Homo sapiens: one gene and its partners. The protein of the gene in region 4 purifies or fractionates together with the protein of the main gene of each other region. This does not show direct contact. Each region holds a gene or a part of one and is shown on either strand. Other genes may lie near its edges.

Region 1 (7,847 bases), on a different chromosome or scaffold from region 4:
TTCTCATTCTAGTTTTCTAAGATGCAGCCTTTGGTGAGCTTACTAAAAATACAGATTCTTTTAAAGTTAGTGCCGAAGATGACCTATTTATTTTTTTAAAGCTCTTTTATGCAATGTTTTAGTTTTCAATGTGGCAAGAGAAGAGGGTGTGAGAACTGCCTCAGGTCTCTCATTTCCTGGGCTGCCTATGATTTCTGGGTAGAAGTGCCTTTCCTCATGACTCTGTGGCCACACGTGGTTCTGCCAGCCATTTGCTTTGGCATCTGAGAGAATGACTGATGTCATGGGCCCCTTCATGAAATTATTCACTGGCTTTGTTCACTGGGTCCCCAGGGCTACTCGGAGCAGCAAGAAGTTCTGAAAATGAAGAGGGAAGTCATTGGATATAGAATTCATAACTAAAGCTTGTCTGGAAGGAGATCTTTATGTTTGAAAAGGACTCATTTTATGTGCAAATTTTAGACTTTGTATGTCAATTCTTTTTTTTTTTTTGAGATGAAGTCTTGCTCTATCACCCAGGCTGGAGTGCAGTGGCGTTATTCTGGCTCGCTGCAACCTCTGCCTCCTGGGTTCAAGCGATTCTCCTGCCTCAGCCTCCCCAGTAGCTGGGATTACAGGCTTCCACCACCACGCCCAGCTAATTTTTGTATTTTAGTAGAGATGGGGTTTCACCATGTTCACCAGGCTGGTCTCAAACTCCTGACCTCAAGTGATCTGTCCACTTTGGCCTCCCAAAGTCCTGGAATTACAGTTGTGAGCCACCATGCCCGGCCTGTGTGTGGATTCTTTTTTTTATTGTTGTTGTTTTTGTTTTTGTTTTTTGTTTTTTTTTTTTTTTTTGAGATGGAGTCTTGCTCTGTCGCTCAGGCCGGAGTGCAGTGGCGCCATCTCGGCTCACTGCAAGCTCCACCTCCCAGGTTCACGCCATTCTCCTGCCTCAGCCTCCAGAGTAGCTGGGACTACAGGTGCCTGCCACCACGCCTGGCTAATTTTTTGTATTTTTAGTGGAGACGGGGTTTCACCATATTAGCCAGGATTGTCTCGATCTCCTGACCCCGTGATCCACCCGCCTCGGCCTTCCAAAGTGCTGGGATTACAGGTGTGAGCCACTGTGCCCGGCCCTCTGTGTGGATTCTTTATTCTTCTTCTGAGAAATCATATTTGTCATCGTTTTTGCCGTTATCATCATCTGAGTTATCAGTGAGCATCTGTCGACTGTGTTCTCTTCCCTGTTCTGGCAGGTCCCCTGGGTATCCTCTGCCCATCTGGTATTACTTCTCACCTGTTGGTATTCATTGAATGGATACTCAACCTTGGATAGCCTCCCTTCAGGCAAACTTATCTGTTGATCTTTTCCTTCCCTAAATACCATCTGCAATCTTACTACACGATTCAGTAAGCGATTGTCCAGTTAAACTGTATGTGTTAGCATACAGCTTACACATTTGTTATCTAATCCAGAACACAAGTTCCTTGACAGCAGGGATCAAAATAGGGGTGGTAAGCAGATCAACTTGCTCCATTTGTATTATTTGAGATTACCATGTGTATATATAATCTAGTAAAGTAATTTTAAAAAATGCATTACCCTTCCTGGTATATATTGTAAATAAATAAATATTGGAAAAAAAAAAGAAGTAAAACAAAAAAATATTTTATATAGGCTCAGTGTGATAACAAACAAAAGGTCATCTAGGTTTGATAAGTGCCCTTTGCTCTGAAGGGAAGATAAAAATAAATAATAGTGATAAGAGTTAACAAAATAAAACCCAACCTGTCTGGTTGAATGCTAATAATAGTGACTTTACTTCATATAGGCAGCTTCCAGATCAATGTAAAAAAGCTTTACTGAATATTCAGACCAGTGCTATTTACTTAGCTGCTCTCAAATGGGAATAAGCAGACATCAGCTATCAAGTTTCTAGGCTGGAAAAATCCATAAAGGCCACTGGACACAGACACCATGGGGACATCATCCAGACAGTTCATAAAAATAACTTGCCCAACATTTTTGGAACCTGATGCAAGCTATACTTGTGGTTCTGTCTGTTTCCTTTGCTTTATCCAGTAACAACAGAAAAGGAGGCCAGTCACCAGGACTATGATAACTTGGATGTTACAGGAGACAACCAGTACAACATAACACTGCAATTAATAACTCAAGAGCCAATTACTGAGACAGTGCTCTTGTAAGCAATTAACATTTAAGATTCAGTCAGAGGACTAGATGGTAAATGGGTGCTTATCTTAAGCCCAGAGAAAGGAGTTGATTGAGACACAAATATTTGAGCAGGACCATAGCCTCAGATCATTCCATCTGTGTTCACAATAGGGGGAATCCCAATCCTGTGTCACATAAATACATAGAACAAACAACCATAATTTGCTATAGTAGTCAATAAGAATGCATCAATTCATTCAGAAATATTTATTAAACACCTATAACATGCTAAGCATTCTAGGGAATTCAAATATATGTCAGTTATTCCCCAATTTTAAGTAAATTGAAGTCCAGTAATGAAATAAGGTTTGCTCAGCTCATATGTGTTAGTATCATATGAGAGGTATAATTGCTGTAACTATTTGGAGGATGGAGAGATCACTTCCAGTTACTTGATCAGGGAAGGTTCTATAGAGAGGAGGGCACTTGGAAGGGACATACACTTAAAAACAAACTTTTTGTTAAAGCATAACACACACATAAAAGAGAATATATTGCATACAGTACAGGCTCATTGAATTTTCACAATCTGAAAACACTAGATATGTAACCAGCACCCACAGAGAATAGTACAGTATTCCAGAAGCCCCCGACATCCCCTACCAATCACTCTTGGGGGAGTAGGATTTTCTGAGATGAATGTAGACAGACAGAAGATTATTGGGGGAGGGATCAGTATGCATAAAGATGTGGAAGTTGAAAGCCATGACCCATGTTTGGAGAATGGGCTGAAGAGTAATTCGCTTGGGGTGTTGGCTAGAGAACAGGGTCGCGTCCACGTTATACAGCTTTAAATGCAAAGAATTAGATTTTATTCGTTAGCTGCTGAAGGCTTTTGAGCAAGAGGAGTATTTTTGTAAGACTTATTGATGATGGCTGATAATTTATTGGTGATGGGACAATTAAGAGACTGAAGGTTGGGAGACTGGCTGGGAAGCTTCTGTAATAATAGTCCGGGTATGAGGTAATTTTGGCTCTGCAGTGGCAGTGAGAACAGAGTAACTGACCATACACAGACACTTTAAAGAGCCAACAAGAACTAAATGACTGGAGATCTAGAGGAAGGGGGAGGAATCAAAGAAAATTTTCTTCCAAAGATCTAATCAAGATGAAATTTAATAATATTTTTGGGTAGTTAGTTGTTATTTACTTGTTGTATAGGGTTAACACAGTCTTTGAATGCTGCCTCTCCAAGAAATTCTGAAAACTTTCTTACAGTATTTGAAGAAAACCTTGCGTTACTATAAAGAAACTCTAAAGAGAGCAACTGACCTTTCAGACAAAAAAGAGTCCTTTGTTAGTCAGAAAATGTGGACCGTTTGTCTTTTCAAATGGATGCATGCTACGATAAACGTTTTGCTGGGGGGAAAAATGACTCCAAAGAAGACTTTTGAAGATGTCACCCGAACAGCAAATTATTGGGTGCTGAGCACCTTCCTGTTTCTTCATCCTCTTAAATAATTTTTACTAACCCAGATTTCTAGGTAAGATGATTTAACTTCATCGTATACGTTTACATGTAATGTGTTTCTACAGAAAACAAAAAACCTTTTTGAAGAAAAAAGGGCGTAACTTTTTTTGACAACTTAAATCACTGGCTGTGGGAGTCATTTTTAATTGATGGCACCTCTTCTCCTCCCTCCCCGCCCCCATTCCGTCCCTTTGCTTCCAATACGGCGGATTCTTCACTCAACAAATAAACGAGCACGTAACTTGTACTGTAACTTACTATAACGTCTTTCAAGGTCTTTCTTAACTGTACGTTTTTCTGCACAATCAGCACCTTATTTCTTAGAGACTGTTTATTTCTGGAATTTTTGATGCGTGTGGTGGTTTCCAGGCACCAGGATTTGGTAGTAAAACAGGAGACTGAAAAGAAGTTGCTCCTGAAAGCTGTTCTGTGTGCAGGTAACCAAGAGTCATTTCTAAGACCAGACGGAAGGGAAGGAACTTTACTTGGTAAAGAGCGCGTGGGTGGAAAGAGGAGGGGAGTCCGGGAAGATGAGAGGTGGCAAAGGCGGGACCCCGTGCTCTCTCTAGATCTTAAGCTCCGGGTGGGCGGGCGCCGGTGGCCTGGAGCCCGGCCTGCGCGCATCTCCACGCCTCTGGCCGCCCACCTCCTCCGCCCCTTCCCGGGCTAAAGTTCCCAAACTTTTCCTCCAGCTGGGAGAGGAAGGGTGTTACTCAGTTTAAAAGGGAAGTCCCGCCCCATTCCCGCATTCCGATTGGTCGCGGTTTGCCACGCCCCCGCCAGGGCAGCGGGTCAATTGGCTACGGGAGGGGAGCCCCGCCTCAGGCCTGTCGACGTCTGCTGCCCGGGGCCCGCAGGTGGCAGGCAGGTGGGGCTGGTACAGCCCGCGCCGCCTCTGCTGCAGCCGCTGCCGTCTACTCCTTGCGCGCTGGCACTCCGCAGCCTTTAAGGTTCGCGCGGGGGCCAGGCAAGAGTTAGCCATGAAGAGCCTCAAGTCCCGCCTGAGGAGGCAGGACGTGCCCGGCCCCGCGTCGTCTGGCGCCGCCGCCGCCAGCGCGGTGAGTCCCGCGGTCCGGGCTGCGAGGCGCTCCGCTCCGGGAGCAGCGCAGCCCTCCTTTGCTGGCGAGTTCGCGCGCCGCCTTCCTCTGCTTTTCCTCTGCCAGTTCGGCTTCGGCGGCCCTGGCGACTCCTCCCTGAGGCCGGAGACTCCGTCAGCCCAGAGACCCCGGGGATCCTCCCCGCCGCCGCACCCGAGCCTCTACGGGTCTCTTCCCCACCCCTTTCTCCCAAGCCTCCGAACTTCTGGAAGAAACCTCAGTGGGGCGGTTCTGGCCCCCTCCTCCTAAATCCAAAGTTCCTCGATTGGCACCCCTACTCCGCTCTTTCCGTTGACCCCCCCTCGTCGCTCTCCTCTCCCGGCGCTCGCCCTGCTGCCCACGCCCGCTCGGCCGTGTTGGCTCCCCAGTCCCCGGGGCCGGGGCTCGCACCAGGTAGGGCAGGTGGGCAGGGCTGCGCACCCCGCGCCACCGTGCCCGGACTCCGGACCTTCCCCGGGTCTGAGACAGCGTCAAGCCCTGCCGGGCTGGTGGACGTCCCGTGCTGGCCGCTGTCGTTGTCACTGGGAAGTTTGATTCCCCAGCGAGGCAGAGGGAATCGGCTTAGTCGTAAAGACAAAACCCCACAGGGTGGTGACCCTAGAGGTGGTGAAGTTGGGAGGGGTGGTGGTGATGTGGGTTGTGTAAATCGCACCTGTGGGGCGGGATCCGTGCGGGGCTCTTTCGGTGCTGACCTGCAGCGCGGCCTCAGTGTGCGCGCCAAGGAGTAGTCGGGGCCTCTTTAGTTGGCAGGAGAACAGAAATCTTGAGAAACAGCCTGACCGCAGATGTTGTGATTTAGATAATTTGTCACGTTACAAGAATGGCGATATCATCAAAATTCTATATCATTAAAATAAGTGCCACTTACAAAGTCTTGGAAGAGTCGAACGTAAAGGAGTTGTTATGCTCCAACTGCACAGTTACCTAGTTGGGGTAATTAAAATGAACCTTTACAATTCAACGCAGATTTTACCAAATGATTATATTCTTTTTATCAGAATACTAATTAATCTGCTTCTGCTTTTTTGAGTTAATTCAGTTATGCCTTTCTCTCCACCTATATCGAGGATTATTTTACTTGGACATAAAGGAAATTGTGGAGGAACTACCTAGACTTAAATTCCTATTTCAAAAAAAGAGAGTAGATTCAGATGACGTAATTGATGTTCTTTGATAAAGCATGAAGTCGTTTTATAAGCTCATGGAAAACAGAGATTACTTTGTTTCACTTTTTTTTTTAAAAAAAGTAACTGGCAGAAATGTCATTTAGTGATATTGGAGTTCATTACAGTTAAGATTCTACTTCTGTAATGCAAGTTGTGTTTTTAGCCTTATAGAAGATACAAGTTTCTAGATTTATTAGCTTTGTTTTCCCTGGTTGTGTTTGATTTGCACTAAGGATGTAAATCCCACTTGGAGGTTTATATGCCTTAATTTTATCCAGTTTTCTAGAAATGCAGAGTATTTAGTAGGTATTATCAGCATGATAGTTTGCATTTTATACATTTGGAACATAAAGTGCATATCTCTGAGCTTAAATCTTTAGCACTCAATTGAGCGTTCTATTTTTCTCAAAATGACATAATAAAGATAAACATGATATTAACCTATTTATGTAGAAAAAGCAAACATTTCTGTTTAAATATTAGAATAAGTTCTGTACAATTTAAAAATAAAAGCGTAATGAGGAATAAAACTTAGAATGAATTCTGTAAAATTTTAAAATAAAACTGTAGTGATGAATAAAACCAAACCAAGCATTGATAGAATAAAACACATGTACAGGAGAAATAGACCCTTTCTGCTTTTCAATCTATAAACCATAATCCCAGATTTGGTCACATGTATATGTATTTATTGTATGATTGGGCCACCCTTTTTTTTTTTCTTTTTGCCTTTAAAAACAGTTATTTTTTGAATAGGTAATATAGCACATGGTTTAATATTGGAAAGGAATAAAAATATTTACAACAAAATATCGACACCGTGTTTCCCTAACCCCTGCTTCAGCCACCCTGCCCCCACTTCCTGAGGCCACTGATGATACAGTTGCTTGCATGTTCCTCCAGAGAGAGCTTAGCATATACAAGCAAATATGAATATAGTCACCCTTTATAGAAATGCTAGCACACTGTAGCTGCTGTTTCATATCTTGGACTTTTTTTTTTAAAACTGTAAATAGAGGCTCCCCATTCATATCTTTTGCTGTAATGTACAATTCTGTGATTAATATTCATATTTCAAGTGTGTGTCTGTACCTGTAGGATTAATTCCTAAAAGTGAATTGCTGGGTTAAAGGATATGTGCATTTGTAATTTTGAAGGATGTTGTCAAGTTTCCTTTCATGCATCATGGAACCAGCATATGAGAAATGTTTTCCAAGCTTTTAATAGAAGTCTGTTCAAAGTTTTTGACCTTTGCTAGCCTGATAGGTAAGAACAGTTTATCCTTTCCATTTTTCTTTTTCTGTTTTTTTTTTTTTTTTGAGACGGAGTCTCGCTCGGTCGCCAGGCTGGAGTGCAATGGGACCATCTTGGCTCATTGCAACCTCCGCCTCCCAGGTTCAAGTGATTCTCCTGCCTCAGCCTCCTGAGTAGCTGGGACTACAGGCGTGCACCACCACGCCAGGCTAATTTTTGTATTTTTAGTAGAGACAGGGTTTCACCATGTTGTCCAGGATGGTCTCAATCTCTTGACCTTGTGATCCACCCGCCTCGGCCTCCCAAAGTGCTGGGATTACAGGCGTGAGCCACTGCGCCTGGCCTGTCCTTTCCATTTTTCTATTGGGTTGTCGATATTTTTCCCTATTCATTTGTATATACTTTATATCAGGGAAATTAGCCCTTTTCATTTGAATAATATTATTTCTTAATTGGCTGTTTGTCTTAAGACATTTTTATGGTGGCATTTGCTGTGCAGAGAAGGTGGTTATTTTTATACAATTGAATTTATAACCTTTTATGATTTTTAGGTTTATGTAATATCTTGGCCTTTCCACTCTGCGATATTTAATATTAAACAACCCCCCTCCCCAACTTTCTTCTAGTTTTTTTTCTTT
Region 2 (8,038 bases), on a different chromosome or scaffold from region 4:
GAAAATTGGAATATATTACTCATTCAACACATATTTATTGAATACCTACTGTATTCCTGGATTCATTCTTGGTATTACATCAGTGAAGAGTAACAGACAAAAATACCTGCCCTTGACAAAGACTGGGGCAGATTCTCCAGCACTACTGTCCTGAGCCATAGAGAAATAGAGCGTGACTATACACACTTAACACATGCACGGAAGCATAAAAAACATTTTCCTACATCATCTGAATTTGTTCACATCCTTTTTTCTTTTAAAAAATAATAACATGCAGTTATAGCCAGTTAACAAATCTACCTTAATTTCCTAGGAACTGTCTTTGAAAAAATATAAATACTTCCAGATAGGTTTATGGATTTTCAGTTTTTTATACCACTTGAAACCCTTCAGTCAGATTGCTTTTCTCCTAACAACTAACTGGTATCACTTGCACTAAGAGTAGAAGTTTTTATTTTAAGGAGGAAAGGTGATGTTGAAGTTTGTACCATTTACTTGGGTCACAGACAGCCTGGCTCTAATGCCTCAAAGAAAAGCATAAAATAGAATGAAGGAGAGACACTGAATGAAGGCAGGGTGCTAAAAACAATTAATGTCCATGCAGAAACATCTAATGCTTTGCCTTAGAAAAGGGAGGTGATTCTTCTTTTCATCCTGTTTTTCTGTCATTCTCCTGACTCCTTGTTTTGAGGGTCCACAGTTCAGACTTTTACCACTCATTCTGAGGATCCACCGTTTCTGTGGTTTCCAAGGGAACACAGGCTCTGAGTTCTAAGCAGCTAAGCTTCCTGAACTTTTGGAGTGTAACCTGTTTATAAATAATTAAATAACAGCTTCAGGGCATTCATGTGCTCATTGTAAACTAGTCTAATCTGATCATAAAACAGAGTGCCTCTTAAGCAACTCTTTGTTAGCCTAATTGTATGCATACACTTAAAAATTATAATTGTGTCTATGCATAAATTCAGTTCTCTAATTCAACAAAACCCATACCGTTGCCCTAAGGATGCGAGGTATCACTCTGCTGGAAATTTAGCTCTACTCTACATTTAAAATACAAGTTTTCACATTAAATAATTTCTTATTCCCCAAAAGATTAATTTCTGTCTCTTTCTAGTCCCTCACTGAATTTAAATTCTAACTAGTTATTGCACTAGGGCAGAGGTTGAGATATCACTGATAGTTCACACTGGATTTGTTCAACCTGTTGTTTTGCGTCCATGAAAATAGTTTTTGGTGGTAATGTTGTGTAATGATGTGTAGAAATTTTATTAGAAATATTTCCCCCTTCTTTCCTTTATTCTTCAAGTATTTTAGTATGTATGACAAACAATATAAATTTTGTAGCTATGTTTTTTTATTTCAGTGTTTAGTGGCTAAATTATCAGTAAGTTATAATTTTATTAATAAGTTTCACTGTAAAATGGACCATACAGGTGATCGAGGAAACATCTCAACATCTTCTAAACCAGCCTCTACATCAGGAAAATCAGAGCTGTCCTCTAAACACAGCAGATCGCTTAAACCTGATGGACGTATGAGCCGGACTACTGCTGATCAGAAGAAGCCAAGGGGCACAGAAAGTTTATCTGCTAGTGAATCCCTCATCTTAAAATCTGATGCTGCAAAGTTGAGGTCAGATTCCCACAGTAGGTCATTATCCCCCAACCATAACACCTTGCAGACATTGAAATCTGATGGGAGGATGCCTTCTAGCTCCAGAGCTGAATCCCCAGGACCAGGTTCTCGGTTGTCATCTCCTAAGCCAAAGACTCTCCCAGCCAATAGGTCTAGCCCATCGGGTGCTAGTTCTCCACGCTCCTCCTCACCACATGATAAAAATCTACCTCAAAAAAGTACTGCTCCTGTTAAGACAAAGCTTGATCCTCCTCGGGAACGTTCTAAATCAGACTCTTACACACTTGATCCAGATACCCTCCGCAAGAAGAAAATGCCCCTCACAGAACCTTTGAGAGGACGGTCAACGTCACCAAAACCAAAATCAGTACCAAAGGATTCTACAGATTCCCCTGGATCTGAAAATAGAGCTCCCTCTCCCCATGTGGTACAGGAAAACCTCCACAGTGAGGTGGTCGAAGTCTGCACCTCAAGTACTTTAAAAACAAATAGTCTAACAGACAGCACCTGCGATGACAGCAGTGAATTTAAGAGTGTGGATGAAGGTTCAAATAAAGTTCATTTTAGCATTGGAAAAGCACCACTGAAAGATGAACAGGAAATGAGAGCATCTCCCAAAATAAGTCGAAAATGTGCTAATAGACACACCAGGCCCAAAAAAGAAAAATCGAGTTTTCTTTTCAAAGGAGATGGATCCAAGCCTTTAGAGCCAGCCAAGCAAGCCATGTCTCCTTCTGTGGCCGAATGTGCCAGAGCTGTGTTTGCTTCCTTCCTCTGGCATGAAGGCATAGTACATGATGCAATGGCTTGTTCTTCTTTCCTAAAGTTTCATCCTGAACTTTCCAAAGAACATGCTCCTATAAGGAGTAGTTTAAATAGCCAACAACCTACAGAGGAAAAAGAAACCAAGTTAAAAAATAGACATTCATTAGAAATATCATCTGCACTGAATATGTTTAATATTGCACCCCATGGACCAGATATATCTAAGATGGGTAGCATCAACAAAAACAAGGTATTGTCTATGCTTAAGGAACCACCTCTGCATGAAAAATGTGAGGATGGGAAAACCGAGACCACTTTTGAAATGTCCATGCATAACACAATGAAGTCTAAGTCTCCTCTTCCCTTAACTTTACAACATTTAGTGGCTTTTTGGGAAGACATCTCTTTGGCTACTATCAAAGCTGCTTCCCAGAATATGATTTTTCCAAGTCCTGGTTCCTGTGCAGTTCTTAAAAAGAAAGAGTGTGAGAAAGAGAATAAGAAGTCCAAAAAGGAAAAAAAGAAAAAAGAAAAGGCAGAAGTTAGGCCCAGGGGTAATTTGTTTGGAGAGATGGCCCAGCTGGCAGTAGGAGGACCAGAGAAAGATACCATCTGTGAACTGTGTGGGGAGTCACATCCATACCCGGTGACCTATCACATGAGACAAGCTCACCCAGGTAAATGATACTGTTGAATGTACGTATAAGTGCTTTTTTCTTTAATGAACCAGATCACTTTATTTGAGCTGTTCTATGAATTTTGTCAAAGGATAGGGAATTTATAGTATCTTAGAATGTCATTTTTAAAGTACATTATCAGTACAGGGTTTTGTGAAAAACAGATAAATTCTAATATTATGATGGCCAGGTCATTTAGTGCTATTTCACTTTCATGTAGCATGTTTTAAAAAATATTATGTGTTACCCAAAGGGTGTGCCATTAATGTGTCTGTCTCACACAGCAGAAACAGTGGCATGCCCATACACACAGGGCATCTCCTTTGATTTTACTATTTTCCTGTTCAGAATTGCAAATTAAATTAGATTAGATTGATTTCTATAGGCTTTTTCCTACGGAAGTGATATTGTTTTATCAGAAGACTGCATTTTCAGTAAATGTAATGATTTCTGTAACATTGACTAATATTCCAAATTCACCTAATACAAATTTGGTTAATTTTTTTCTTTGTCTACATATTATACCTCAAATGTCTTATGAATATGTGATTTCTGAAAATATATCATTGTTATAGAACTTTTATACTTGTATTGTCTAATTTTATTGACATAATTAAGTATATCTAAATATACCTATATTCTATCTCTCTTTTAATATGCCTGATTAGAAACTAAGTATCTCTCATATTTGGGGCATCATTTAATTGATTGCTTTTTGATCAAGTAAGCTATTTTTCTGATATAGTTAATAGCCTGAAAAATAAGATATCTACTTCAGTATTTTGCTTTCTTTGAGAAGGTAAATCTGTCATTAATGTATGAGTAATAAGGATCAAACTATTAAGGACACTTGGAGTGTTAAATATTTATTTTTGGTATTGTTTCAAGGTTGTGGCCGATATGCTGGTGGACAAGGTTACAATAGCATTGGGCATTTTTGTGGAGGATGGGCTGGTAACTGTGGTGATGGTGGCATAGGAGGAAGCACTTGGTATCTGGTATGTGATCGCTGTAGAGAAAAATACCTCCGCGAAAAACAGGCTGCTGCAAGGGAGAAGGTATTTTATTCCATTTGGAGCTATACTTTTAATGATATGGATACACTGTATAAAAATACCTTGTTATAATCTTACTACATCAGATAATTCCACATAGTTGATATTAAAAGATCAGCTTTTATAATGGAAATCATATACAAATTTAATATTTGTACTAAGTCAAATGCTTTTAATTTTAAAAATTAACTATATATTGGAATAACACTAGATAACCTCTGCTACATATGCCTTATTGACAAATATTTGTTGTGTAACTCTTTATTATTAATTGTCTGTTATTCTCTCTATGGAGAGCTTTCCTTTTCACCTTCTTTCTCTTTTCCTCTTTTTTTGGCTCCTTTGTTTTCCTATTCCATATCTACTCTCTCTTTTCTTTATTCACTCTAGTGGCACCTAACTAAAAAATTTCACTGAATACACGCACTGAAATGATTTACTTTTTAAAAAAATGAATTACATTTAGATTTAACTAGTTAGGTGTTAAATTTTTCTGAAGAAGGAAAGGAAGTATAGTTTGTGTTTGATACAAAATTGTCTTGGTCAGCCCAGGATGAATATGAAATGAATGTTGTTTTTTATAATCTTATTATCTTAAAATAGCTTTACAAGTGTTTAATAATTTTTATTGGAAACTCAAAATACTTAGCTTAAGAAACTAAGGATTTTAATGTAAGTCAGAAAAGATTAGTTTGATTTTTTTCTTCGCCAGGTCAAACAATCTAGGAGAAAACCAATGCAAGTCAAGACCCCTCGTGCCTTGCCCACCATGGAAGCTCACCAGGTGATTAAAGCCAATGCACTCTTCCTGCTGTCCCTGAGCAGTGCAGCAGAACCGAGCATTCTGTGTTACCATCCTGCAAAGCCATTCCAATCTCAGTTGCCCAGTGTAAAAGAAGGCATTTCTGAGGATCTTCCTGTGAAAATGCCTTGTCTCTACCTGCAGACATTAGCTAGGTAATAAAATTTTGCTGTTGTTTTTTAATCACCTTTGGATTAACAGCGATTGTTTATTGATATCTAGGGTAGTTCGGTATTTGACCTACACTTTATTAGCTATTGTGTACTATAAACAAACTTCCAGGCATTTATTTTTTGAGTTGCCTTGACTGACATAATGACTTTATGGTAATAGGTATTTAAAAAACTATAAAAATGCTTCATCAATTTGCATTGTATTAATACACAACATGTCTTAGAAAATAAGACTATAGCTATCTTTTACTCTTTGGTAGGCTGACTTCACTCTGTTAGTGCGAAATGCTGAAGTGTAAAGAAAGTGTGTTTCCTTAGCAGTCTTTTATTTCGTAAATTATTCATTCTGTTAGCATTTAAATGAATACCAACTGGGCACCTACCAGCCTTGTGCTAGGCCCTGAATGTATGAATATAACAAAATCCTGGCTTCTATGTACTCATACTCGGATGTCAAGTCAGACATGTTAGTGAAACATTTGAAATGCCATGTGAGGAGTGCTACAATAGAAGTATGTATGTAAGATGCTGTTAGAGCATAAAAGATGGAGAGTATCTGAATCTTCCCCAGGAAATCAGAAAAGGCTTCCCAGAGGGTCTGAGCCTTTAGTAGAGTCTCAAAGGATAAATAGAAATCTGTCAGGCAAGCGACAGGAAGAAAGCGACTCTTGGAAGAATAACCCAGGTGAGTAAAGACACAAATGAAATCTCATTACACATTTCAGGAATCACGGGTTGTTAAAGGACTGGCTACTGGAGGAAATATGTGAAAGCCCGTTCAAAGTGATTGGTTCACCCAAGTAATGTCGGGCTCTGTAGCCCAGGTTAAGATTGCATTTTATCCCATGAGCAGAGGAAACAGTGGAAGAATTTTAAACAGAGAAATACATGAACTGGTTTGCAATTAAAAAATCACTGTGGAATGTGGAAGCTAATGTGGAGACTAGATAAAAGTGCATTACTGGAGATAGAAACCTGTTAGTATTCTGTTTTCATATATTGGACCTCAGTGGTGCAGCCTGTACTTTCACACATCATGCACTGACACTCCAAAAGAGCCTTTCATATACCAAAACCAAATTTTTTTCATCAGCTGACAAATGAAGGTAATCTAGATATTGCCCACTGACATGGCTTGCCGACCAACAGTTCCATTTTGGAAATTGTCCTCTTTGTGTAGCAGAGTTGTATGGTTTTTAAAATTTTGTGCTTACTATTACAATAAAATGAATAAGCAACAAAAATGAAAATATCAGACTAAGTACATTTGAGACTGAGGTGGAAATCATCAGTATGCCAAAATACAATAGATCTTTAGTGTGAATCACACCACTCAGTGGACTTAGGTTAGCAACTATTTGTTCATTTTGAAAAGGAAAGAATCAAATTGTAAAACGTGAAAAATGCTAACACAGCATAATTATAGATTTTTTTCTTTTTAGCTGTCTGGGGAATGGGCACCCCTTCCACCCTGAACCACAGAAAATTTCATATATCTAATATTTTTCAAATATGATCTTATGTATGTTCCTACCCAAAAAAGTAACTGCTTGTATTTCAGTGGTCTGTGCAAGAAATAATAAGCATGAACCAAGGCAGTGATGATAGGGAATGAGAAGAGAGAATGGCTCTGAGAGGAAACCTAATATCATGGGCTTGAAAGATGATGATGATAGAGGGCTAAGCCTACTACAACACTGGAAATATTTTAGCTTAAGCAACTGGATGGTTGGTGGGCTTATTCACCAAAACACTGGAAGATGGAAAAGTTCTCAAAAGGAAAGAAACTGAGTTCAATTTTGGATTTGAAATGTTCGTGGTACCTGGAATGTTGATGAATAAAATTATCAGACTTTTATTTTCACCTACCTACATCTACGATTATTTTAATGCTTTGCCTTTAACTATGATTTACATGTGCTGCTTTTCCTGTTATGAAAGAGATTAAAAATGGAGAGGATCTGTATTGCCATCATGCTTTAAGTTATTGGGTTTGATTTAATGCAGGCATCATCATGAAAATTTTGTGGGCTATCAAGATGACAATCTATTCCAGGATGAAATGAGATATCTACGTTCAACATCTGTACCTGCCCCGTATATATCAGTAACTCCTGATGCAAGTCCTAATGTATTTGAAGAGCCAGAGAGCAATATGAAGTCTATGCCACCAAGGTATTTTAGTTCTCTCCTGTCTGTTGAATAGCTAGTGTTTGGTGGAAGAAAGACTTTGAACTAGAAAAGAGTCCTGTAGAAGTTCTTTAATACATCTGTGAGCCAGTTTTGCTAACTGCTGGAGCAGTAAGAAAAAGCATACATGTATGACTAAGGTAAGGTCCTTGATGGGAGAGGCAGACTAGTTGGAGAGAAGAGATCAACTAGTGAAGGAATTAAAGATTACATTATATGACATTACTTAATGCTGTAGTAAATCAGAGTAGGGAAGGGTTACTTTGAGTTTTCATGGGAGCAGTGGCATTGAAAATAAATCTTAAACTTCTTGGATTATTGTTTACAGTGCCTCCTAACTTAGGTATGGTAGTATCAGAGTAAAGAGCTTCTCGGAAAGCTGAATAGAAACTTGTTACAATAATGTAATACACAAGAAAATAGAGGCCAGGCGCTGTGGCTCACACCTGTAATCCCAGCACTTTGGGAGGCCAAGGCGGGTGGATCACCTGAGGTCAGGAGTTTGAGACCAGCCTGACCAACATGGTGAAACCCTGTCTTTACTAAAAATACAAAAAATTAGCCGAGCATGGTGACACACACCTGTAATCCCAGCTACTCGGGAGGCTGAGGCAGGAGAATTACTTGAACCTGGGAGGCAGAGGTTGCAGTGAGCTGAGATTGCACCACTGAACTCCAGCTTGAGGAAAAAAAAAAATAGAGTACCACTGAAACTTTTTTAGAGGACGAATGATGTGA
Region 3 (8,994 bases), on a different chromosome or scaffold from region 4:
GAGCCAGCTGTGTACCACAGAGACTGAGAGTGGTGAGTGGACTTTGTGAGCCAATTATGTGTCGGAAGGACTTGGAGTCTGCCCTTCTTCCTGTATGTCATCATCAGCCCACAAATGCATTCAGTGGCAGTGACCCAGCACCATCACCATCACCCACTGCTCAGTCTGTCTTAGGATTCCTTATCTTTTTCTCCATCATCATAGAGACTGAAATTTCAGGGGTGTTTTTGTACAGTGTATTTTTTTGTGGGGGGGTGATACATTGGGGTTTTTTGTTTGCATAGAGTGGGAACGGTGTGCAATGTGCTCTTACCACAGAACTTAAAGTATGAATAGGCTCCATTCTTCCGCACCATGGGATCCATAAGAAGTGCTCACTTTGCGAGGTACTCTGAGATTAGCGTTCCCCATTTGTTTGACCTACAGACGTTAAGTGGGTGACTTGTGTTACACACGGGGAGTAAATTCAGAGATGGCACCTGTAGTCTTTGCAGTCTGTTGATACTTCTAAATAACTAACTGGATGACTTTTTGGGGATTGACCAGCAGATGCCATCTCTTGCCCTCTTGATTCACCTGCTTGCCTTAATTTGTCCCTAAATTCAACTAAACTTCAATAAGAGGGGTTGTCAAGGCCATGGGGCGCACTTGGAAGCACTGCCTGGGCTGGAGCGTTGGAGGCATTGGCAGGCAGGTGGGAAGGAGCTCTCACTGCAGTGTTCACAGGCAGGGAGGCTGTGTGTGGATGTGTTAGAATTGTGTGCTGTTGCCTCTCAAAATATCCACTAGAAACAGGTGTAACCAGGAAAATACAGGTCTCTGCTCACTGTTATTAACAGACTGTCATTTCCTGACATTGGGTCATGTGGCTTTACTCTAGGAGGCTGGTTCTCTATTTTTGTCTTAGTTCAATTTTCTGCATCCTCAAATGCCAACCCCAGTATGTGGCTGGGTAGGTAGAACTGTGCTGCCTGCCTGCCATGGGGGCTGCTCTCCCTCCTTACCCCCACGCCCACAGCCCCCTTGGTTCTGTGGTGGGCACAGGATGTGTTTGGGTGTGAGTAAAGTCAAACTCTGAATGTATAATCTCTTGGTAGTAATATCTGAGTGGTGTTGCTACTCCTGCTTTTTAAAAAGACTTTTCTTGCCATCTATAAAAAGCTTTTTTCTTTTTCCCAGCATTGCTCCTGTGCTGCCACGCTTGCCCTTTTTCCTTACCTTCCTTTCAGTTTTCTATCAACAACTCCTCTAAACTTCAGTTTAAAATAAAAAACAGCCCAAAAAGGCTCTTTGCCACCAGGGGGCGTGGTAGGACACGTTGCCAGTGGTCTGGATAGGGGAGCAGAAATTTTGAATTTTAAAAATTAGCCACCAAGGCCAGGTGCAGTGGCTCACACCTGTAATCCCAGCACTTTGGGAAGCTGAGGCAGGGGGATTGCTTGAGTCCAGGAGTTCAAGACCAGTCTGGGCAACATAGTGAGATCCCATCTCTCAAAAAAATAATAATCTAGAAAATAAAGATTAGCCACCCAGTTTTCTTTCTCCAGATGCTAAAGTTGATTCCTGTTTGATAACAGTATTCCAGAAATGAGGGGAATAACATATCTGATAGGCCCAAGTCAGCTCTGGATAGTACAGTGTCTGGATAGTACAGATTCTGTGCTCCTGGGACATGCTTTGTTTATTCCTGCCAGGCCAGGGATTCAGCAGCCCTATTCCCCAACCCCCGTTACTGTCTCTGTGGGCTAGCCAGGCTGTCCGTTATGTAAGCACAACAGGGGCAAGGTGGGGAAACCGTGTGTGGAAAAGGAGTGGAGTGGTGGCGGGTGGCCAAGGTAGACTAGGAAGAGTGGGTACCCAGAGACCACTTGTTCAGAAGTTAACTCCTCTTCCCATCTGGCGTGAGCTACTCCATTGAATGGTGCCAACAACAGTAAAGTGAAGGAGATAATGTTAGATTATTTTCAGGGATGATTCTCCAAGATGACAGCAGATCTTAAAACCAAAGAGCTGGGTCCTGGAAGAAGGGATCTTGGATTATTAACTTCTGATGGAAGGACCAGAGTGGGAGAGAGAAGAGTTGGGGACCTAGAACATCAGGAGGACCCTGGGTCTTTGGGGATGAGGCTTCACCATCAGCTGGAAGAATCCATGCTTCACACACATGCCTCTGCCATTAGTGGTACTGGGATGTTTAGGGTGACATCCTTGAGGGGAGAGCCACTGAAAAGAGGGACATTCACATTTTGCTGTATTCTTGCAGCTGTCCGTGTCTTAATAATTCAAGCGTTCAATAGGTGTTTGAGGGCCAGGCACTGCTCTTGAGGTGCTGGAGATAACGGTGACAAGCCCAGGTCCCTGACAAGCTCCACAAGCTTAATGGACAGTGAATGTGCGGCTGTTGCGGCTGTTCACAGGGCCGCTGGTGAGGGCAGGTAGAAGAAAGTGCAGACCTTCTTAAATGCAGGTGTAACGGATCTACATGAAAGAGCATAATTAACACCAATGTATACTTAAGGTAGTAACAGCTTCTTCATAAAGTAGCAAAACTAAGGATCTGTGGGAAGGTTGCTGGTGCAAATGCTTTATAAGCTTACTAGAGACTGAGCCTTGGATTTAGGACTTTAGACGAGTATAGGATGGAACAAAATTTTTGCAGTAAATGTAAAAAATGCTGTGTAGGAGGAAGGCGTATAAGGATGCCCCAGCTGTAGGTTCTTTAGATTGTCTGTAGTATTTCCACGAGTAAGTTGTTTTTGATGTGTGTACTGGTATTGCTGGTAGATTTGAAGTGGAGTCTGGCGGCTTCTTCCACACTCCCCTCCCACTAGCTTGTGTCAAGATGTGACATCCTATGCAGCAAAACTAGGTGAGCTTGCACCCCCAGGCGGTGGCTCTCAACTTTGTCTCATTGTTCAGAAATTTCGGCCAGGCGCCGTAGCTCACCCCTGTAATCCCAGCACTTTGGGAGGCCATGGCAGGTGGATCACTTGAGGTCAGGAGTTCAAGACCAGCCTGGCCAACACGGTGAAACCCCGTCTCTACTAAAAATACAAAAATTAGCCAGGTGTGGTGGCACATGCCTGTAGTCCCAGCTACTTGGTCAACTCAGGCAGGAGAATCACTTGAACCCAGGAGGCAGAGGTTGCAGTGAGCTGAGATCAAGCCACTCCAGCCTGGGTGACAGACCGAGACTCTGTCTTTAAAAAAAAAGAAATGTCATCTAAGCCCCAGTGAACCTCCTGGGAGGAGAGCTAGCCCTGGCCAGCTGTCTCCAAAGTGACTGGATGCTACAGAAGAACTGGGACTGTCTTCTGCACACTCGTGCCTCCTGGAGTTGTCAGAACACTGAGCAGTCTCCTAGTTCTGCGTCCGTCTAGCCATGGGGTCTGCCATGAAAGCCTGTGGATCTGCTATTGGGTTGGTATTTTAAACTTTCACTTGGGTGAAACTTGTTCATCATTTTAAATAAAGCAACATGATTTGGAGTTGTGTTTTTGGCATTGTTTTGTCCTTATTTTCTTTCTTACTCATTTGAAAGTCAACAATGTACTTTGTCAGCAGAACAGGACTTTAAAAAAATGTATTTACACTTTAAAACAATGGGATGGAGCACAAAATTAAGGCCCTGGGCCAGGAGCATTGATGCACACCTGTAATCCCAGCTGCCCAAGAGGCTAAGGCAGGAGGATCACTTGAGCCCAGGATGTCGAGGCTGCAGAAAGCTATGATCATGCCTGTGAATAGCCACTGCACTCCAGCCTGGGCAACATAGTGAGACCCTGTCTCTTTAAAAAAAAAAAAAGAAAGAAAGACCCTGTCTCTTTAAAAAAAAAAAAAAAAAATTGGCTGGGCGCGGAGGCTCACGCCTGTAATCCCAACACTTTGGGAGGCTGAGGCAGGCAGATTGCCTGAGGTCAGGAGTTCAAGACCAGTCTGGCCAACACGGTGAAACCCTGTCTACTAAAAACAGAAAAAAATTAGCCGGGCATGGTGGTGGGCGCCTGTAATCCCAGCTACTCAGGAGGCTGAGGTGGGAGTTTCGCTTGAACCCGGGAGGTGGAGGTTGCAGTGAGCCGCGATTGCGCCACTGCACTCCAGCCTGGGCAACAGAATAAGACTCCATCTCAAAAGAAAAAAAATAGGCCCATACACTGGCTGAAACTTCCACAGTGGTTAAAAGCTAGTCGCCCGTAGATAAAGCCTATTTCACATTTTATAGTTTATAGGCTCTTTTCATCAACCACCACTAAAAGGAAGTGCATGGCCCGCTTAATATCGTGCAGTGCAGCAGAATTCAGCTCTCCCTGTTGCTGAGGGGTCTCGTTTGTGTATCTTCATTTAAAAAGAAGCACTCCATCTAATATCTGGTTTATATCACAGATCAGCTCAGGCACTGTAATATTCCCAAAAAAGTATTAAAGGCATCCTCAGCAAAAACTGGAACCGTGTTTTTTTTAACATTAGGCCTTATGTTTGGCGTGATACCTGACATGCCCGTCCTGTGTTTATTTAAAATAACTAAAGAGTGGGTGGGGAGTGGTAGGAAAGTATGTTTTTGGTTACAACGTGTTTATCTCAAAATCCACTGTTCAGCAACAGAGGCCTGGGAGGATCTGGAGAAACAAAAACAATAGCCTTCATTTCCTTCATTGTACCCTCCCACCCTGCATGCATTCTGGAATTGTGCAAAGAAGAAAGTCTGGTAAGAGGAATAGCGTTGACCAAGGACCTGCAGCTGAATTTCAGGTCTAGGGGCGGGGGAGCCATGTTACTGTTAACAGGGAGGCCTGTGTTGAAGGCTGCTGGCCTCAGCTCCGAAGGGAGCATTCACTGGCCGGGATCTGGAGATGTCCTCTGTGAAAGTGCATTAAGGCAACCCTGAGGATTAAAAGCAACTCCTGACATGCCTATAAAAACGGCAGTGGCTGAACGTAATCCGGCATTATGATTGCTTTACAAGCCAATCCAGGCTGCCGTTTCCATGAAGCTTCCCGGGTTTGCTTGTCTCTCTGCATTCCCACATTTCCAAAATGCTCTAAGACGAACCGCCGTACTAAGGCCAAAGATGACAACCTAAGGGCACCTCATACAGTATTTCAAATTGAACCTGAGCTAAATTGTGCCCCAAAGCGTCAAGGCTGCCCAGGCCGGGCAGGGGTTGGCCCTCCTGTGCCTCCCAGGTGGTCAGGGCTCTGCCCCCTCAACACCCCCGCCCGCAGCCTGTGCGTCACCCTCCCGGGGCCGGAGGGGGCGGGGGCGGGGCGCGGCGATGGGGGCTCCGCCCCGAGGCGGGGCGCGGCGACCGGGCGCGGCGACGGGGCGCGGCGGGCTCCCTCGGGGTCCCAGCTGGCCCGCACTCGGCGGCCGCGGCGCGATGGAGGCGCCGGCCGAGCTACTGGCCGCGCTGCCTGCGCTGGCCACCGCGCTGGCCCTTCTGCTCGCCTGGCTACTGGTGCGGCGTGGGGCGGCCGCGAGCCCGGAGCCTGCCCGCGCGCCCCCGGAACCCGCGCCCCCGGCCGAGGCCACCGGGGCCCCGGCGCCGTCCCGCCCCTGCGCCCCCGAGCCGGCGGCCTCGCCCGCGGGGCCGGAGGAGCCTGGAGAGCCCGCGGGGCTGGGGGAGCTCGGGGAGCCTGCGGGACCGGGGGAGCCCGAAGGGCCAGGGGATCCCGCGGCGGCGCCAGCGGAGGCGGAGGAGCAGGCGGTGGAGGCGAGGCAGGTACGCACCGGGGCCCTCGCGGCCCCCTCCCCACCCCCGGGGCTCCGGCTGCCGCTGCCGTTCCCCGCCGAGCCAGGGAGCGGGGCCGCGGCCTCCAGCCCAGGCTGCCCCCAGGAAGCGCAGAACCCGCGGCCCGCAGGAAATGCAGGTCCCGCCATGCTAAGCCGCAGCCCCGCAAACTCGCCGCCCTCCCCCAGAAAGTGTGGCGAGGGGCGAGCCCGAAGGAGTTTGTTTGGAGGTGTTTTGCTCTCCCCTCCCCTCGGCCTCTCCCAGCCCAGGGCGTGCTCCGCAGCTGCTGGCTCCCAGGCCTCGGGACCAGGGCTTGGAATTTTGCTCCTCACCCACTTCTGACCCCTCCCGCCCACCGGTTCCCAAATCCACGTGCCTGTGGCTTATTTCCAGGCCTGCCATGAGAGTTATCTTGATGTTTAAAAAGTAGGACTTTCGGGGGGCGAGGGAGGAAAGCTGGCTTTTCTTTTTCAGCCAATTTGAAGTCCAGATTTCAGAGTCAGTGCTGTGGCGTTTTGTGAAGCCCGTGGGCTGGGACTGAAAGAAAAGGCACCCGATCCCAGCAGTCCTTTTTATTGTCGTTTTCAAGCTACACATCTAACACCCTCCTACCCCCACTCCCCCGGGTTGTAGGTAAGCTGGGCCTGGATGGAGTGAAGATGCAGGATAAAGCCCTCCTGGAGCACCAGTGAGCACCCCAAAGCGGCCCTCCCTGCCTCTGCCCCAGGCCTCCCGCCATGCTGTCCATCAGCTCGGCCTTGGCCACCTTGTCCTGCCTGTGGATATCTGAGAGGAGTCGGATTTCCCTCATCCACTCATCCCAGCCCCTACACTGTGTGCCCATGTTCCCTGGAGTTCACCACGCTTGGCCGGTCCAGGCCACCGCCAGGGTCTCCGAGTCGGATTGTAATCCCTTGTTCTTACCCCTGAGCTCCTTTTCTTGGAAGGGAGGAGAGCCGGGATGCGCATTGTCAGCGTGCCTGCGTGTCTGCGTGCCCACTCTGTCCTGTGCTGGACACAATGGTTTACCCTGGAGAGAAGCCCTTCGGGGGAGGAGGAGGCAGCCAGGCTGTGCTCAGAGGCATTTCTCTTTGCTGAGTAAGTGCGCCAGACCCCCTCTGAGCAGGCGCTTTGCTTGACAAGTGGGTGACTAATTGTGTCATTAGAGAGGATTCTAACCAGCCACATTTAATGGGGTGGAGCAGGGGCAGGCCCTGCCGTTCTTGCTTGGGGTGGGCTTCCAGACCTCACGCGGTGATGGTGGAGGGGGCGCGGTTTGGACATGTGCTGATCTGTTGTGTTTGCTCCCATATTTGGGATTCCTGCCTCCATCGAGGTCTCGCGGGAGCAGGAGAGGCCTTTAGACAGTTCTGGAGCCGTCATGCACACTCAGTCAGTCCTGGCCTTACAGGGCTGGCCCTTTATCACCCACACCAGGCTCTGGACTGAAGTGCAAAATGTCCTTTAGCGGCGCCCTGTCTTAGCTCAATCCTGTGGGGCACAGCGCTTAAAGAACTTTCTACAAGGCTTTCGGCTCTCAGCACATGGTACCTACAGGAATAGGTTCAGTGGTGTTTAAATAGGGCCACTCGCATAATTTGCCACTGTCTGGGTGAATGCACGTCCTCTGAAGCTGAATGGGTGCTCTGAAGGACAAGGCAGTATGGGGGTTCGCGTGCCAGGCAGCCCCCATGACATAGGTGCCAGTGAGGATGACTTGAGGCTTGTGTCTGTCCTCCCGCTAAGGCACCCTCCAGAGAGAACCCACCCCACAGGAGAATTCAATTGAAGTCAGTGCCCTTCCCCTTTGGGTTCAAGTCCCCAGGCCTTCCTGAGCTGGCCAAAGCTCCCCCAAAACTCCTGCCTGCAAACATTAAGCCAGGTGCTGTGGGGACACAGATATTGTGTCATCCCACCCACTCCCAGTGGTGGCATTAACCTAAGAAGCTGCTTAGAAATTGTCTTGATGAGCTTCGAGTCAGTGACAAGAAAAAAAAGAAAGGAAAACAAATTGTCCTGAAGTGGACTCCAGCGTTTCCAAGAGCTTCCAGTGCTTTCTTCTGATGATCACACTGCTGGGGCTTGGAGGACAGATAGGGAGAAAGGCCCCCTGGGGAAGATAACTCAAATCAGGGTTGGGAAGTGGGGCTATGCCCTCTGCCAGCCTCCTTCTCCCTCCGTCCCTAAGCGAACCCCACCAACAGCGAGGGAGGAGGGCAACTCCACCTGCTGTTAGCTCGGAAGTCACTGCCCTGGGGAGCAGCGTGTAACTCACCTCTCCCCTCCCTCTTCATTTTCCATTAACTGCCTCCTTTCTAATCCAGTCCTCTCCCTTCCCAGGGAGGCCTGGGCGGGCTGGGGCAGCTGCTGCCTCTGACTACAAAGCTGATTATTGAGAAGGATCTCTCGCCCCGGGAAGCAGCCTTCAGCTGCTATTGGGGATCGCTCAGGAGCGTCCCCTAGTGCACGGTGCCCTCTTTGGCCAAGGACAAAGTAGTGGGGAGGGGCTACTATAGGCCGAGACCCTGGAAATGGACCAAAGAAATGGGGATGAGATCAGTGCAGCTCTTGCTTCCCCAGGGCAGCACAGGCCAGGGCAGGGAGGCTGAGGAGAAGCGGAATGATACTGCTAGAACCTCTTTTCTCTCCTAAGGATTAGCACAGGGTGGGCTGTGAGGAAGCATTATAGGCAAGGCCTGTTCACGCAAAGAATCATGAGCCAACGAAGTCAAGAACAGGAGCCGGCCTCTTTTCAGGCCAGGACTCAGGGCTTTCTTGGTGCTCCTGTGTAGGTTGGGGTTTTAGGATTGCCAGGCCTCTTACCTAATGGACTTGTGGATTGGAGCAAGGCTGGATGGTCGGATTCCCAAACATTGGTAATTGGCAAAGCGTCAAGGGTCATTTGAATAGCACTAGAGTTAAATTTCTTGTCTGTGCCAGGACTCAAGTATCTCGGTACTTGGGGCCTAGCTCTGCTCATAGACAGACTAGAGCCCGGGCGCGATGGCTCACACCTGTAATCCCAGCACTTTGGGAGGCCGAGGCAGGAGGATCACCTGAGGTCAGGAGTTCGAGACCAACCTGGCCAACATGGCGAAACCCCGTCTCTACTAAAAATACAGAAATTAGCCAGGCATGGTGGCGTGCACGTCATCCCATCTACTCAGGAAACTGAGGCAGGAGAATCACTTGAACCCAGGAGGCTGAGGTTGCAGTTGAGCCAAGATCGTGCCACTGCACTTCAGCCTGGGCAACAGAACGAGACT
Region 4 (5,329 bases):
TTCTCATCCCCTTTGGCCTGTGCGTTATTATGCACTTTTAATGTGAATCTTGACTGCTCTTCAATTAGCCTCCTGTCCTGCCATCACCTTAAAGCAGGCCTATGCATGAAGTACAGTAGCCCCCTAATGCCAACCTTAAACCAGGCTCTTTCCCTCTAAATTAGCCCCTGCACCAATGTCAGCATGATTTTCTCTAAGCACAAGTTTAACAGTGCCATTTTTGTGCCTCCTCTTTTCTCCAATCTATCTCATTTCTTATTCCTCCTTCCCTTTAAATCTGGCTTCTAGCCCCACTGCTCGAAGAGGCTGCTCCCTCCATTCCTTTGTTCAACAAATATTTGTCAAGTGCCTATTTTGTGGAAGGTTCAAGGAATATCTGGTGTAAGAGGAACTAATTTAGCCATAAGAAACTTAAAGCCTAATAAGGAATCCTATATATAAACAGATAATATGTGAACCATTGTAAAGATCCTGGGACAATAGGGGAAGCTAAACTTTCCTAACAGGGAAATTTCCAACAAGAGGATATTGAGCTGAGTCTTAGCAAGAAATGAATTTGCAGCAGAGTATGGGTAGAGGGTATTCAGACAGAGCAGAGCATAGAATTACAAAGGTAGCAACTAGCAGATAAGGCTGGTTAAGGTGACAATGTTTACATGCTTTGCTAAGGTGTACAGACAATGAGTAGCATTTAAGTGATTGTACGCAGGAGAGCAATTTGGATTTGTAAAAGACCACTCTGGCAGCAATTTGAGAGTGTGGAATGGAGGTGGCAAAGGTAGGAAATAGACAGATTTATAGGGAAGATCTTGCAATTGTTCAAGTTACACATGATGAGTGCCTGGACTTCGAAGAGTGTTGGCGGAATAAAGTAGAGATTTAAAAACATGCAAGATGTAAAAATTGGAATATGAGGTATTCAAAGGCAGAGATGTTTTGTTCAATGACATTTCTCAAATATCTTGAGCAGTACCTACCCAAAGTAGATGCTAAATAAATATATGCAGGATTCTGGGAAGATGACAGTGTCAATGTAGTTTCTGAGTATTCCTAACTCTCCCCCCAAAATAAGCATAACAACTATCCCCACTTCACCTCTTTTCTTTCAAGTTACTCTTTCTCTAAGTATTATTTCTGCATTTGAATATATTTCTTCATTATGAATATCGCATATTTTCATTACTTGTATACATGTCTATCATCCCTAAATGATTCAGAGCTCTTTAAATAAGCTGATGACATTCAATATTTAACTGTTTCCCCTTTCCATGCCCAGTCTTTATTTCCTGTCACTCTGTTGGTATTAAAAAGAAATATAGCATTTAAGAATATGCTGTCTATGAGGAGTCAGTGAAAATTTATAATGGTAGCAAATAGGCAAAATTGTAAAATGTATTTACAAAATAATGGCATTAATAAAATGAAAAATAATGTTAATATTTTTATTGAAATAAAAACTGTATAGAGACACGTGAAAAAAATAATTTATTACAGACTCTTTTACACATTAACATGGAACATTTATACATATATCGATGTGCTGATATGAAATACTAAATTTAAAGGCAAACATTTTTACACAAAAGTAGTTGCACTCTATTTTATAAAGATAGATATTAATAAGTTATCAGAGACATTTAAGAGCTAGAGGCCAATTATTCCAACAGTAATGCATTCTATGCTGAAAGTAAACTAAGTTTTCTGAACATGATGTCCTGGATATAATCACATTCTTCTAAGCTAAGGAAAGGGAGCTCATTTCTGGGAATACAAGGCCAAGAAGGGCTCTAACAGCAGTATCCCAGCAGTGTGTTTCCAGATTTATTCTTGGATGTGGTTGGAGCTCCCAACATTTAGCCTGAACTAATGTAACAGCTCAATGTGAAACAATGCAGCTTTCTGTAACAGCTGCCTGTGGTTAATGAGATTTAATACAGGGGATACAGTTACAAATGATAGCATTTTAGAAGAATTATAATTGCCATATGATTTGAATTAGTAATCAAATACTTTAATAACAGAAACGTGTATTCTATATTTCTGAAAGGGAAGTAGCATACTTCAAAATAGTCACTATTTTCTTAGCATGATATGTTAATTCTTACTTTGGGAGTCTGAAAATAAATTGCATTTTTTCCCCTAAAACTTAGAATTCACTCCTTTAGAAAATGATTTCTATAATGATATACACCAACATGATATAAACTTTATTACATTATAGTCATTAAAATATACATATACATATATGTGGAACACTAAACAGATTTGGTAAACATGATATAAATATACACATGGCCAAACACTGTTCAGTTTCATTTAACTAAATTCAACAAATATTTATTGGGTGCCTACTACTTGCAGATCACCATGTTAGGTAATGCTTGTAGTAGATTTTAAGACACATGAAGCTCACATCATCCACATCAAAAGCCAAACTTTAGATAATATACTAAAGCCTAAAAAGTAATAGAAAGCAGAGCTAAGGTTGAATAACGGATAGTGAGAGATATATCTAGAAGAAAGTCTTGGGGTAATGGACAAGGACAAAAGAAAATCTGTATCCATAGGGAAGAACTGCTCCTGGGCTTGGCACGTGTTAGGAGAAAACTGGAACCTAGTCTGTACTCCTCTTCACCCCATAATCCAAGATTCAGTCATCATCCTGCTTTGTTTCCTTAAATAGGCAGAAGAAAAGAGGGATTGATTTACAGTGATAGTGAGGTTTATAATATCAATTAAATATATTTTTCTCTTTATGAGAGTGTGATCCACGTTCACATCTACAGTTTCTGTAAATCATTCCCACCATAATTCTGGGAAAAACAGGACCGCACGACTAAGATGACCAATGTTTGAGGTAATTACGGCTTAGTTTATCAGAAGAACATCAATAAGCATGTCCACCTCATAGGAAAATGATTTAATGTTAAACCAGGTGAAAGAAGATAAATATTTCAAACCCTGGCATTCTATTCCCTTTAGAAGTTGTTATGCCCTAAAAGCATCTTTAGAGAGTTTATACACACTAAAAGAGAAATATGAGCATGCAGTCTTATCCCCCATGAGGAAACAACACATCAACAGGGTAACAAAGTATCAAACTTGCTTCTGATGCCACTCCTTACAAAAGGCTAGGAAGAGGCTAGCCATGATCTTAGTGTGTGCAAGGCCTCTATGAGAGGTGTGATTCCACTTTGGATGTGCCACTGTTCTGAAGTCCATTCTAGCACATGGGCTCTGCCTGGAGTATAACCATAGTAGTAGAAAGAACTTAAATCTTCCCTAAGGAATTAATCAGATTCTAGCAAGTTAAAAATCACTCATCTATCTAGGAGAAACACATGAGGGACTAGGATTTCCAAAATTCCCCAATCACTCCATAGAAAGATAGCCTGCCCCTTAAAAGGATCTTAAGCTTCATGGTTAAGAAACCTCCCATGAACCACAGCCCTTATCTGTGGTGATCTCAGAGCCAACTTAGAGAGCTGAGGAAAGGGGTCAGGGGAGCCCCTCACAGCCCACTTACCTTTGAGCCAGACTACAGAGGAAGAGCAAAACAACCACAACAGCAAGAAAAAAAGCAGCCTTCTCAATCCAGTCTGTTGGTTTTCATTTCATTAGAGGACAAAAATCACTAAAGTATCCCCTAAAAAGTACTTATGATTGTAATTGGCTCATTAATGTTCAATTATTTCCACTGCTTTACTTAGAAGTTAATTTCTGTTAGCAAGAATTCTTTTCAAATGAAATACATTTTCAGTGATTTTGCTTTAGTTTTCCATACTTATACTCTGTCTTAAGTACGCAAATTACACTTTGATTAGTCATACCTCTGTTCCTGTATTTTTTCTGGATAGAAACCAAACTTGCATTGGTTCTTTTTTGCCCTTCATGGACACTGGGCCTCTGTGCTCCAAGTGGAATTGTGGATCTGAATTTTCTGGAGACATAAGACATCTAAAAGACAAGGGAAGGGGAGTAGAGAGAGAAGTATACACAAGTTTTATAGAGAAGGTGACATGTATCATGTTATAAACCAAGATGGCAAGAACAAATGCTGAAGTTGTACTGAAAGGTAACTCAAAGCTTTAGAAACAATGATCATATCAGGATTTCCTAAGATGATGTGAAATCATATAAAATGGAAATAATGACACAATCTTCTCAAATAAAAAGTAAACAACTCTACAAGCAGTGGGGAAGAGTGAAGGTGATAACTCTGTTAAAGCAACAAAATCTCTCAGAGAATTAAACCACATGCAAAGACACATTTTCTTTGCAAATCAGTAAATACCAAGACATTTTCTCTCACCTGTATGTATATTCAGACACATTTATTTTTCCCTTTTCTCCTGTGGTTTCTGTTCGGCTTGTGAGGTTGACAGTATTCCCAAAAAGACAGTATCGAGGCATCCGCTGTCCTATGACACCTGTAACTACCTCTCCAGTGTGTATCCCTATTGTTATCTGCAAAAAAGAAAGCTTTGCTTCAATCATTTTGATCACTAACACATGAATTTTTTTTTTTTTATTTTACTTTAAGTTCTGGCATACAGGTGCAGAAGGTGCAGGTTTGTTACATAGGTATATATGTGCCATGGTGGTTTGCTGCACCTATCAACCCATTATCTAGGTTTTAAGCCCCGCACGTATTAGGTATTTGTCCTAATGCTCTCCCTCCCCTTGCCCCCAAACTCCCAACAGGTCCCGGTGTGTGATGTTCCCCTCCTTGTGTCCATGTGTTCTCATTGTTCAGCTCCAACTTATGAGTGAGAACATGTGGTGTTTGGTTTTCTGTTCCTGTAACACATGAATTTTTGCTTACTTTATATTACAGAATAATGTAGAGTCATCATATAACATCGTAAGAGATGTCTATAAGAATTTCAAGCATATTATGGACAACTTCAAAAGCCCTCCATGAAATCTCTATCTCCCCAGGGAAATATCCTATCTCAAGAGAAACATTTGAAGTCTGAAGATTTCAAAGATGTGAATCTAGTAACTTACATGAGACATGAAAGAGGTTTTAAAAAATAAACTAGAAGGTACAAGAGGTTTTTTTCTCATCCCCATGACTTTCAGTACATGAAACGGACTAGATAATTTCAAACAGGTAGATAAATCTCCATGTCTATGAAAGAATGTAGTACAGTGGGCTGGATGAAATGCTATAGTCTTTGTTGTCAAGATGCCCTTCTTTATACACGTTAATGATTTTCCGGACAACGATATGAATCAATTGTCCAAAAAGGTTTACATACCATTATTACAATATCTACTTCATTTACTAACCTGAACAGATTCACCATCTACTTGAACCTGGCCA

Evidence for each region.
Region 1: the proteins of GUCY1B1 (region 4) and UACA purify together in Homo sapiens (affinity purification with mass spectrometry; 2 studies listed by BioGRID and IntAct, with this or other methods). This does not show direct contact.
Region 2: the proteins of GUCY1B1 (region 4) and MYCBP2 purify together in Homo sapiens (affinity purification with mass spectrometry; 2 studies listed by BioGRID and IntAct, with this or other methods). This does not show direct contact.
Region 3: the proteins of GUCY1B1 (region 4) and MXRA7 purify together in Homo sapiens (affinity purification with mass spectrometry; 2 studies listed by BioGRID and IntAct, with this or other methods). This does not show direct contact.

What each region holds. Positions count from the first base shown.
Region 1 is NC_000015.10:70,760,233-70,768,079, reverse strand, and holds the start of UACA (uveal autoantigen with coiled-coil domains and ankyrin repeats), read left to right. Parts: upstream 1-4,521; 5' UTR 4,522-4,672; coding exon 4,673-4,750; intron 4,751-7,847. UniProt on the Homo sapiens protein: Regulates APAF1 expression and plays an important role in the regulation of stress-induced apoptosis. Promotes apoptosis by regulating three pathways, apoptosome up-regulation, LGALS3/galectin-3 down-regulation and NF-kappa-B inactivation.
Region 2 is NC_000013.11:77,092,412-77,100,449, reverse strand, and holds part of MYCBP2 (E3 ubiquitin-protein ligase MYCBP2), read left to right. Parts: intron 1-1,436; coding exon 1,437-3,080; intron 3,081-3,968; coding exon 3,969-4,138; intron 4,139-4,847; coding exon 4,848-5,092; intron 5,093-7,117; coding exon 7,118-7,285; intron 7,286-8,038. UniProt on the Homo sapiens protein: Atypical E3 ubiquitin-protein ligase which specifically mediates ubiquitination of threonine and serine residues on target proteins, instead of ubiquitinating lysine residues.
Region 3 is NC_000017.11:76,707,330-76,716,323, reverse strand, and holds the start of MXRA7 (matrix-remodeling-associated protein 7), read left to right. Parts: upstream 1-5,358; 5' UTR 5,359-5,377; coding exon 5,378-5,719; intron 5,720-6,765; exon of another isoform or gene 6,766-6,826; intron 6,827-8,994.
Region 4 is NC_000004.12:155,803,731-155,809,059, reverse strand, and holds the end of GUCY1B1 (guanylate cyclase soluble subunit beta-1), read right to left. Parts: coding exon 5,296-5,329; intron 4,468-5,295; coding exon 4,313-4,467; intron 3,958-4,312; coding exon 3,831-3,957; intron 2,675-3,830; coding exon 2,651-2,674; 3' UTR 1,249-2,650; downstream 1-1,248. UniProt on the Homo sapiens protein: Mediates responses to nitric oxide (NO) by catalyzing the biosynthesis of the signaling molecule cGMP.